Linked DNA regions of Homo sapiens: region 1 is linked to region 2. The links come from fine-mapping of genetic effects on gene expression. A gene starts in region 2. The other region holds a variant in brackets. All regions are shown on one strand. Distances are from middle to middle. Region 1 overlaps CDR2L (cerebellar degeneration related protein 2 like). Region 2 holds the start of HID1 (HID1 domain containing).

What was found. PIP is the estimated chance that this variant, and not a neighbour inherited with it, causes the effect. A credible set is the group of variants that fine-mapping cannot tell apart.
Region 1: its variant is the best candidate, but not a certain one, in a credible set for the expression of HID1 in lung (TOPMed, PIP 0.65).

The regions. Positions count from the first base shown.
Region 1 is chr17:74,994,174-74,999,539 of GRCh38, reverse strand. It overlaps CDR2L (cerebellar degeneration related protein 2 like), which reads right to left. Exons shown (of 5, transcript NM_014603.3): 2 at 1-36. Among named protein-coding and RNA genes, the nearest start is that of CDR2L, 9.2 kb to the right of the region's middle. RefSeq lists an enhancer at 5,067-5,366. The variant G/A (reference allele first, on the strand shown) is at 2,136.
Region 2 is chr17:74,970,336-74,975,701 of GRCh38, reverse strand. It overlaps HID1 (HID1 domain containing), which reads left to right and starts at 2,943. Exons shown (of 19, transcript NM_030630.3): 1 at 2,943-3,111. The coding sequence starts at 3,046. It overlaps HID1-AS1 (HID1 antisense RNA 1), which reads right to left and starts at 5,013. Exons shown (of 3, transcript NR_110878.1): 1 at 4,910-5,013; 2 at 972-1,134; 3 at 1-536. RefSeq lists a silencer at 2,879-2,988.

The sequences.
Region 1 (5,366 bases), 24 kb before region 2:
GCAGAGTCTTCCCCAGCTCCGCAGCTAGGTGCAAGTCTAGGATAGGAGAAACACGAGCATGAGAACAAAGGCAGAGGACGCCCATTCATGTTCCGAGCATCTACTCTAGGTGACCCCAATGTAACCAAGACACTGGGAGCCTCCAGGCCTGGGAGGAGAGGTAAGCCAGGAGCTAAGCCTTTGCACTGTTATTTCTGCCTGGAATGTTCTTTTTGTGTGTGTCTGTGTGTGTGTGTGTGTGTGTGTGTGTGCAAGATGTAATAAAAAACAAACAAAAATAGGAATGGTTGCTTTCAACATTTTCCAGGTTGTGAAAGTTTTGCCACGATTCTCAGGGGTGTGGTTCTAAGCTGCATCAGTGGAACAAATACAAAATGCTGTCCTCCTCCTAGGCTGGAAGGCAGTGCACCTTCTCCTCTTAACAGCCAGACTAGCGGGTGAGGAGTCAGTGCTGTGCCCAGGCCAAGCTGGAGTGTCCGCATGGCTTCTTCTCTGACCAGTGGGGATTCCATCTACCTTGAGGCATGCTGGCTGGGCCCTGTTTCCACACCAGCGCATGGTGAGACAGCGTAGCTTATCAACAGGCTGCTGGGCCTTAATACTGACAGTGAGTGTGGCGGATCACAGCCAGGAAGGGACTAACACAGATGCCCTCCCAGCCCCACTGCTGGCCTAATTTTAGAATACCACGGAAAAAAGCTTTGATGAAGACAACAGGAAGTCAACACAGCAGAGAGTGGTGTGGACAACCCAGAAGCCAGCCTCACGCACGGAATATTCTTTCCTGATACTTCCAGGACTTGTTCCCTCTTCTCCTTCAAGTCTGTGCCTGTCAACTTCTCTAGATCTTTCCCCAATCACTTGATTCAAAGTCACACTGTTCCCTGCCCTGCAGTCTCTCCCCCGCTTCATCTTTCTCCTTAGCACTTAGCACCATCTAATTTCCCAAGCAAGTTACTCCTTTATCTTTTTCAGCTCCCCCAACTAACTGTGAGCTCATGGGGCAGTTTTTTTTTTCTTTTAAGGGATGGGACCCAGGCTGGGGTGCAGTGAGTATTCACAGGTGTGATCATATGTGCTGCAGCCTTGAACTCCTGGGCTCAACGATCTTCCTCCCTCAGCCTCCCAGGGCAACATAGTGAGACCTCATCTCTATTAAAAAAAAAAGAAAGGTGGTGCAATACGGCTGCCTGGGATAGGATCCCTTGAGCCCAGGAACTCAAGGCTACAGTGTATATGATCATGCCTGTGAATAGGCGTGGGACTATAATATCGGTTGCTGGGACTACAGGAATAGTACAATGTTTTTTTTTTGAGACGGAGTTTTGCTCTTTTTGCTCAGGCTGGAGTGCAGTGGCGCGATCTTGGCTCACTGCAACCTCCGCCTCCCAGGTTCACGCTAACCATTCTCCTGCCTCAGCCTCCCAGGTAGCTGAGACTACAGGCGCCCGCCACCATGCCTGGCTAATTTTTTTTTATTTTTAGTAGAGACGGGGTTTCACCGTGTTAGCCAGGATGGTCTCAATCTCCTGACCTCGTGATCCACCCGCCTCGGCCTCCCAAAGTGCTGGGATTACAGGCGTGAGCCACCGTGCCCGGTACTTTTTTTTTTTTTTTTTTAACTTCTAAAATCTTTTTTATGCCGGGATTACAGGCACCCACTACCACGCCCGGCTAATTTTTTGTATTTTTAGTAGAGAGGGGGTCTCACCATGTCGGCCAGGCTGGTCTTGAACTCCTGATCTCAGGCCTCCCAAAATGCTGGGATTACAGGCATAAGCCACCACACCTGGGCTAAAATTCTTAAATTTTTTTTGTAGAGACAGGGTCTTGTTATATTGCCCAGGCTAGTATTGAACTCCTGGCCTCAAGCGACCCTCCTACCTTGGCCTCAAAATGCTGGTATTACAGGCGTGAGCCACCGCACCTGGCAGGGCAGGGATTTTTATGTTTTGCTCATGAATATCCCCAGGACCCAGGACAGTATCTAGGACAGAATCAGTGCATAATTTGTCTTTTTGGAAGATTAAGTGAGTGATAAGAGCATGGACGGACATAGGGGCAAGGTGCCGTGGGGTGATGGGCAAGGGAGAGCTTCACTCTCCCCGGGAGGCTCAGGCAAATGGACAGCTTTC[G/A]AGTTGGACTTTGAAGGGTGGATAGGAGGCTGGGTGCGGTGGCTCACGCCGTAATCCCAGCACTTTGGGAGGCCAAAGTGGGAAGATCACTTGAGGTCAGGAGTTTGAGACCAGCCAGGCCAACATGGTGAAATCCTATCTCCACTAAAAATATAAAAATTAGCTGGGTGTGGTGGCGCAAGCCTGTAATCCCAGCTACTTGGGAGGCTGAGGCAGAAGAATCGCTTGAACCTGGGAGGCAGAGGTTGCAGTGAGCCGAGATCGTGCCACTGCACTCCAGCCTGAGTAACAGAGCGAGACTCAGTCTCAAAAAAAAAAAAGAAAGAAAGAAAGAAAGAAAGAAAGAAAGAAAGAAAGAAAGAAAGAAAGAAAAGGGTGAATAGGAGCTTGCTGAGAGGCAGAGAGAGCAGAAGGGCTTGCTGAATATTAAAACTGGAAGATGATTCAGAACTTCTTGGCCCAACTTCTTGATTTTATGGATAATGAGCAGGACAGCAGAGTGACTTGCCCATGGTCACCCAGCTGGTTTATGTCCACGCTAGGGGGAGAATTCAGGTATCGGGCTCCTGGTTGGGTACCATTTGACCCTAGTGACATGTGCCCAGCTCTCAAACCTTCTTTCCCTGAGGAGCAGAAACATCCTCTTCCCCCAACAGCCCTGGTGCTTGTACCCTGTAGGATTGGAACCTTCCCTCCCTGACCCCAGTCCAAGGGAAATGAGGACCCATCAGATAGGCTAGGAGGGAATCTGTCTGTTTTTAGGGGGATGTTGTGGGGGATGGGCGGGTAGAGAGAAGGAGTTAGAAGGAAACGGCAGGTACTAAAATCCCTAAAAATTCTCTTGGTGGGTCTGAGTTGTGTGATGATAGCTAGACATTTGGAGTGGATACAATCCTCCCAACAACACACATATGTATATTAAATATATTTATTATTTTTTGTTTCTTTTTTTTTTTTTTTTGAGACGGAGTCTCGCTTTGTCTCCCAGGCTGGAGAGCAGTGGGGCAATCTCGGCTCACTGCAACCTCCGCCTCCCGGGTTCAAGCTATTTTCCTGCCTCAGCCTCCCAAGTAGCTGGAATTGCAGTCGCCTACAACCACATCCAGCTAATTTTTGTATTTTTAATAGAGATGGGGTTTCACCATGTTGGTCAGGCTGGTCTCAAACTCCTGACCTCAAACAATCCACCCACCTCGGCCTCCCAAAGTGCTGGAATTACAGGTGTGAGTCACTGTGCCTGGCCTGTTTTTTGTTTCTAAAACGAGGCAGGGTGATAAAAATATTCTAAAATTGATTGTGGTGATGGTTGCATAACTTTGTGAATATAATAAAAACTGTTGAGTTGCACACTTTAAATGAGTGAATTGTATTGTGTGTTAATTAAATCTCAATAAATCTGTCAAAAAAAAAAAAGATTTAGGCAGCTTAATCCAGAGACGGAGAAGGGTGGGAGAGAGCGGGTCCTCAAAGAGGTCGTTAGAGCAGGCTGAGGCTGAGTTTCACAAGGCTGTTTTCTTTTTAAAATAGCTTTAATGTTTTTCATAAGGCATGATTGGTGTAAAAAAATCAAACAGTACAGAAAGGTTAAAAACTGGTGATTTAGGCCGGGTGCAGTGGCTCATGCCTATAATCCCAGCACTTTGAGAGGCCGAGGAGGGTGGATCACTTGAAGTCAGGAGTTCGAGACCAGCCTGGCCAACATGGTAAAACCCTGTCTCTACTAAAAACAAAAATTAGCCAGGCGTGGTGGCATGTGCCTGTGGTCCCAGCTACTTGGGAAGTTGAGGCAGGAGGATCACTTGAACCTGGGAAACAGGTTGCAGTGAGCCGAGATTGTGCCACTGCACTCCAGCCTGGGTGACAGAGAGAGACCCTGTCTCAAAAAAACAAAACAAACAAACAAACAACAACAACAAACTGGTGATTTAAAAATTAGAGGCCAGGCCGGGTATGGTGGCTCACGCCTGTAATCCCAGCACTTTGGGAGGCCGAGGTGGGAGGATTGCTTTAGTAAAGGAGTTCAAGACCAGCCTGGGCAATATAATGAGACCCTGTCTTTACAAAAAATAAGAACATTAGTGGGGTGTGGTGGCATACACCTGTAGTCCCAGCTACTTGGTGAGCTGTGATTGTGCCACTGGACTCCAGCTTGGGTGACAGAGTGAGACATTGTCAAAAAGAAAAAAAAAAAAAAGAAAGTGTAGACTGGGCACAGTGGCTCATGCTTGTAATCCCAGTGCTTTGGAAGGCTGAGGTGAGAGGATAGCTTGAGGCCAAAAGTTAGAGACTAGCCTGGGAAACACAGTGAGACCCCATCTCTTTTTTTTTTTTTTTTGAGACTGAGTCTCACTCTGTCGCCAGGCTGGAGTGCAGTGATGAGATCTTGGCTCACTCTGCAACCTCTGCCTCCCAAGTTCAAGCAATTCTCCTGTCTCACCCTCCCGAGTAGCTGGGACTACAGGCGCGTGCTACCACGCCCAGCTAATTTTTGTATTTTTAGTAGAGACGGGGTTTCACCATGTTGGCCAGGATGGTCTCGATCTCTTGACCTCGTGATCCGCCCACTTCAGCCTCCCAAGGTGTTGGGATCGCGCCCTACCCGAGACCCCATCTCTACAAAAAAATTGTAAAATTAGCCGGGCATGGTGGTGCATGTCTGTGGTCGCAGCTACTAGAGAAGTTGATGTGGGAGGACTGCTTGAGTCCAGGAGTTTCAGATTAGAGTCATCTATGATTGCAACACTGCATTCCAGTGAGACAAAGCAAGACCCTATCTCTGAAAAAAAAAGAATGAAACTAATTAACTTTGTTGTACAAAACGTTTTGTGCAAATCACCGCCCAATTCCTTAGGACACAGAATTCCTTGAACAAAGGGTAAGCCTAGGTACCTGGAACAAAAGGTAGGCCTAGATACAGAATTCCTAGAAATACAATTCCTGGGACAAAAGGTAGGCCTTCTTGAGGCATTCTGTCAAAAGACTGTCCAGGAAAGCACTGGTCTGTTTCATTTTATGAGGCTGCTTCTTAAAACAGCTCTCAATCTAGGCTGACGATGTAAATCAGATCAAGATGCATAAAGGCAACTCTACTGGGGCCAATATGATGTGGTTCAGGGATCCAGTTCTCTACTGCTTTCCCTTTTTAGACATAGTGATAGTTCTAGGGTCTCTGGAGGACGGATAGGCTCTATACTCCCGGACAGAAAGTTTCCTAGATACGGTTGTTTCGGC
Region 2 (5,366 bases):
CATCTGAGTGGTAGAAGAGCCCCTGAGGCTAGGTGAGGGTGGACTCAATTAAATCCAGTAATATTTCCATGTCACTTGGGAGTTCCTGGTTGCAAGCCACAGAAATGGCTCTGAGTGATGGGCAAGACCAAAGGGGTCAAAATTTCACCCGGAGTGGCTGGTTAGCAAGAGTTCTCAATTCTTTTCTTCTCCTTCTTCTCCTCCTCCTTCTTCATACCTTCACTTGCCTTTATTATTTTTTCTTCTTTTTGAAGGCTGAGCACGGTGGCTCCTGCTTGTAATCCCGATGCTTTGGGAGGCCCAGGCAGGAGGGTCGCTTGAGCTCAGGAGTTTGAGACCGCCTGGGCCACATGGCAAAACCCCATCCGTATAAAAAATACAAAATTAGCCGGGCGTCATGGTGTGCACCTGTAATGCCAGCTACTTGGGAGGCTGAGGTGGGAGGATTGCTTGAGCCTTGGAGGTAGAGGGTGCAATGAGCTGTGATCATGCCACTGCACAGTCTGAATGACAGAGGGAGACCCTGTCTCAAAAAACTAAAAATAAATAAAGAAATAAACTGTTAGCATGTTGCCAGCTTTTGAAAGTCATTGTGCTAGCCATGTAGTGTTATCTTACTGTGGTTTCAATTTGCATTTCCCTAATGATTATGATTGAGAGTTTTTAATGTCACTCTGGCCTGGAATGCGGTTGAGTGATTTGTAGAATAGACTGGATTTTTTTTAATGCCAAATAAAGGAACTATTCATTCATTATCTTGGAATGATTAGAAAAGCCATGAAACCTGCCAAGGATTTTGCCCAGGGCGGGGAAAACCCACCTCCGGAGAAAGGCTAGAGCTACCCTATCATTGCCCTGTGGAGTTTGTTTGTTCCGTGAAATGGCGACACCCTTCGCACTCCTCTTTCCCTCCACACCCGCTCCACCCTGCCACACTTTTGCTCCCAGATGGCGTGCCCCTCATTTTTCACCTGTAGAATTCCTCTTTAAGTGAATGTCACATCCTTTTGAAGCATCTAGGGGCCAGGCATGGTGGCTTACATCTGTAATCCCAGCACTTCGGGAGGCTGAGGTGGGAGGATCCCTTGAGGCCAGGAGTTGGGGATTAGCTTGGGCAATGTAGCAAGATCCTGTCTATACAAAAAATGAAAAAAAAAATTAGCTGGGCATGGTGGTGTGCACCTGTAGTCCTAACTACTCAGCAGGCTGAGGCAGGAGGATTGCTTGAGTCCCAGCATTCGAGGCTGCAATGAGCTATGATTGCACCACTGCACTCCAGCATGGGCAACAGAGTGAAACCTCGTCTGCAAAATGCATGCATGCATGCATGAATGAATGAATGAATAAATAAATAAATAATAGGGCTGGGCATGGTGGCTCACACCTGTAATCCCAGCACTTTGGGAGGCTGAGGCAGGCGGATCATTTGAGGTCAGGAGTTCAAGACCAGCCTGGACAACATGGTGAAACTCTATCTCTACTAAAAACAAAAAAAAATTAGCTGGGGGTGGTGGCGGGCCCCTGTAGACCCAGCTACTCGGGCGGCTGAGGCAAGAGAATTGCTTGAACCCAGGAGGTGGAGTTTGCAGTGAGCTGAGATTGTGCCACTGCACTCCAGCCTGGGTGGGCGACAGAGCGAAACTCCATCTCAAAAAATAAAAAATAAAAAAGCATCCAAGATTTCCAGAAGCTTCCAGACATAGCTTGCAAAATGATGTTGTGGAAAAAGCGCAGCCTCATTTGGATGAGCTCCTTACTACCTGTGTGGCTTTGGGCAAGTAATTGCTTTAAGCCTCATTTTCCCCAAGTGTAAAATGGGGATAAAATAATACCTCAGAGGTAGCTATTAGAGATATCGTCATTGTCGTCTTGTTTTGATTCCCCCCCCCCCCCCGAGATGGAGTCTTGCTCTGTCGCCCAGGCTGGAGTGCAGTGGCGTGATCTCGGCTCACTGCAACCTTTGCCTCCCAGGTTTAAGCAATTCTGCTACTTCAGCCTCCAGAGTAGCTGGGATTACAGGCGTGCGCCACTAAGCCCAGCTAATTTTTGTATTTTTAGTAGAGACGGGGTTTCACCATGTTGGCCAGGCTGGTCTCGAACTCCTGACCTCGTGATCCGCCTGCCTCGGCCTCCCAAAGTGTTGGGATTACAGGCGTTAGCCACCGCACCCGGCCTTGTTTTGATGATTAATCTGCCTCTATTACAGGCTTATTTGGCTGTACCCTGGCCGCTTCTTTCCTTATCCCTCTCCCTAGCTGCTCGCCATAAAGAGCAGGCTGTACTACTTATGTCCGCTGTGTCCGTCCATGACACAGAGTTGGCAAATACCAGACCCTCAGCACATTTGTTGAAATGGATGAATCTCAAAGGATTCTCTGGGAATCTGGTGGCTAGAGAGGGGTCGGGACCGCGAGGGACTCTCGCGCTCAGCAAGGCGAGGAGCTGCTTTCCTGGAGTATGGAAACTGAGTCAGCGCCTCCCTCCCTCATAACCAAGGGCCTGCGGGACTGTCTGAACACGTGGGTTTGACAGGTCAGAAAAAGGGAGAACCAAGAGAGTGGATGCTCAGAAAACATGAATGGGAAAGACAGACTGAGAAGGAGGAAAGTGGGATGGAGAGGGCCAGCTGAGACGTGGGCCAGGAGCCGGAGCGGAGATGAAGGGTGAGGACCGGGGCGGGGGACGAGCTGCGAGGAGGGTTTTGGGCCCTGGGGACTGCGTGGTAGCAGCGGAGGCGGGTACAATGCTCCGACGCAGAAGGAAGAGCGTCGAGGCTCCGGGTGGGACCTGAGAAGGCACCCGGCGTGCGGCGGCGCTGGGTTGGAACCGCCGACTCCGCGGGTCTTCGGCGGCGGGCGCTGCAGGTGCAGGAGGCGGAGCCACGCGGGGGCGGGGCCTGTCGGGGCGGGGCCGACGAGGGCCGGGGGCGGGGCGCGCCGCTTGTCTCCTGCGAGAGCCGCGGGGGCCGCGGAGCTGGAGCCGGAGCTGAAGCCGGAGCCGGGTTGGAGTCTGGGCGGGGGCCGGGCCGGAGCGGGCTCCAGAGACATGGGGTCGACCGACTCCAAGCTGAACTTCCGGAAGGCGGTGATCCAGCTCACCACCAAGACGCAGGTGCGCCACGGGGGCCCCGGCGTCCCCATCCACCTGCCGGGCTGGGGGCTGGGCAGGGCCGGGGGTACGCGAACTTGGCTCGTCGGGAGATGGGGGGACGGGCGGGCCCCGAGCGTAACGCCAAGGCCAGCGCCGGAACGGGACCCCGCGGCCTGTACCTGGAAGCTCCATCCCCTGGCCCTAGTCCCCCACCCTCAGCCTCCTCTCCTGGGAACACCCCTCTCCCCGAAGCCGCTGCTGCCACCTTAGGCTGACGTGTGCCTACTCCCCGAGCCGGCGACACAGCTGTCCGCCCCCTGTCCCGCCCCGCGGCGTCCCCAGCTTCGCATCTCCAGCCTCCCGCCGCCCCCACCCACCCATCCACCGTCCGCTCCCCTCCCTGCCCCTCATTGCCCGCGGGTCCCGGACGCACAGTCCCTGTTGACTCAATGCAAACAAAGCCTGGCTGGCGTCCGCCCGGGTCGGAGAAACAGCTGGTGTGCGCGGCAGCGGCCTCGCTGGGCCCTGGTCGATGCCCGTGGGCAGGGAAGGCCCAGGTCTTCCTGGGAACACGCAAAGAGTGGCGGGCAGCGAGGCAGCCTGGTGGGGGGCCCTGTCCCCAGGCCTACTGAGCACAGCCTCCCAGCTGGGGACCTCTCCAGGGGCCTTCCCCGAGGCCCTGCAAGGGAAAGGCTGTTAGCCTGTGTGCTCTGTTCTCTGGCTCAGGGATGGGGACCCGCAGGATGGCCCTCAGTCAGCTGGTGAGGGGCCTAAGGACCCTCCAGCCTAGTCCATGCTCATAACTCTCCTGTGAGTCCACAAGTGGCCCAATAGCCACCTCCTTATACCACCTGGCCCCAGCAAGACTGCTTCTCTGCCCACCCCTTCTCTCCTGGCTTTTTGAATCAGGCCACCGTGGCCACAGAGATGCTCGGCCCTGACTCCCCATGTCCCCCATTTTCAGGGGACACAGGACCTGCTGCCATCTGGGATCTTCCTCTTTCCTGGCCCCCCCACCTCCTGCTCTCCAGGGCTCTCTCTTGCTGCTGGAGGTTAGAGTGGGATGGAGGAAGCCAGCTCCCACAGCCAGCTGGTCACAGCTCCAGGGGCCAGACCTTGCTCCCTCACCCCTTTCCCCACCCTGGAAGGGTCAAATGTGCAGCAAATGCCCAGGGCCTCTGGAGAGTCCAACCCCGGCTGAAAGGCTCTTGATAGAAACCAGACCGCACTTCTCTCCATTCCCTACGGCTCCTGGGTCGTTCTGGAGCTTGGCTTTTTTAGGATGGGGTTTTCGTTCTGTGGGTGGCAGGGAAGGTGGCAAGTGGGCTAGCCCCTCAGTGTAGGGCTGCAGGGAGAGGAGTGGGGAGGCAGGGAGGAAGGGAGGCTCCCATGTTTACCTGCCTGGGGAAGAAACTCCTTGTTGGAGGATTGCACTGTGGGCTCGGCAGCTGGGGTCCTTTGCCAGGCCAGTGGGGCCAGCTCAGCAGAGTACCAAAGGCTCTGGAGTGGCCTAGATTCCTACCTGCTCAGGCCTTTTCCCCAAAATACTGTGTCCCTCTGTCTTTCCCTGGCTACAGCCCTATGATGGGCCACTTGAGATGGTGCTGTTCTGTTTCCCAGCTGAGTAGGCTTGGAATAGAACCTGGATAGGCTGGAGATCAGACCAGCCTTCTGGAGAGCACTGGGTCCTGTAGGCGGACGGGGGCCTGGGCTGCCCGGGGGGAGAGGCCTTCAGAGGCTGAAGCCTTGGACTCTGTGTAAGTGACCTGACTTGGGTAGCTTGGGTGTGAGGATCAGAACCCAGATGATCATCACTGACCTTACCACTTGGAGTCCCCAAGGAGATTCAGGCCAGTTGTCCATAGGATGATATGTGGTTCCAGGCTCTTACAGGGTGTGGCTTGGGCAGTAGACAGGCAGAACTAGCCCCTTTTCCTGTGGCCTGGGCCTGTATCCCTGCTGCTCCACCTTCCTCGCCTTCCTGCCCTGCATCCTGTTTTCTTCCTGCCCCATGGTCCAGTCCTGGGTCAGGCCTGACCCTGGTCCTAAGAGCCAGCCGCTTTGGCTGTGTTTCCTGGTGCTTCCTCATAGTAGGTGGGGCTCTGGAGGGAGACAGTCCCAGACCTGGAACCCTCTCCCAGATCCTGCCTGTTTGGAATTCTCTGCTGCAGGCCAGATGAACCTGGCGGGTGCATATTTACATGTGTATACATGTATGTGCATGGGAATGCATGGTGACACAGTCCTCTAGAGCAGGCTTAGCAGGCTTGAGGACT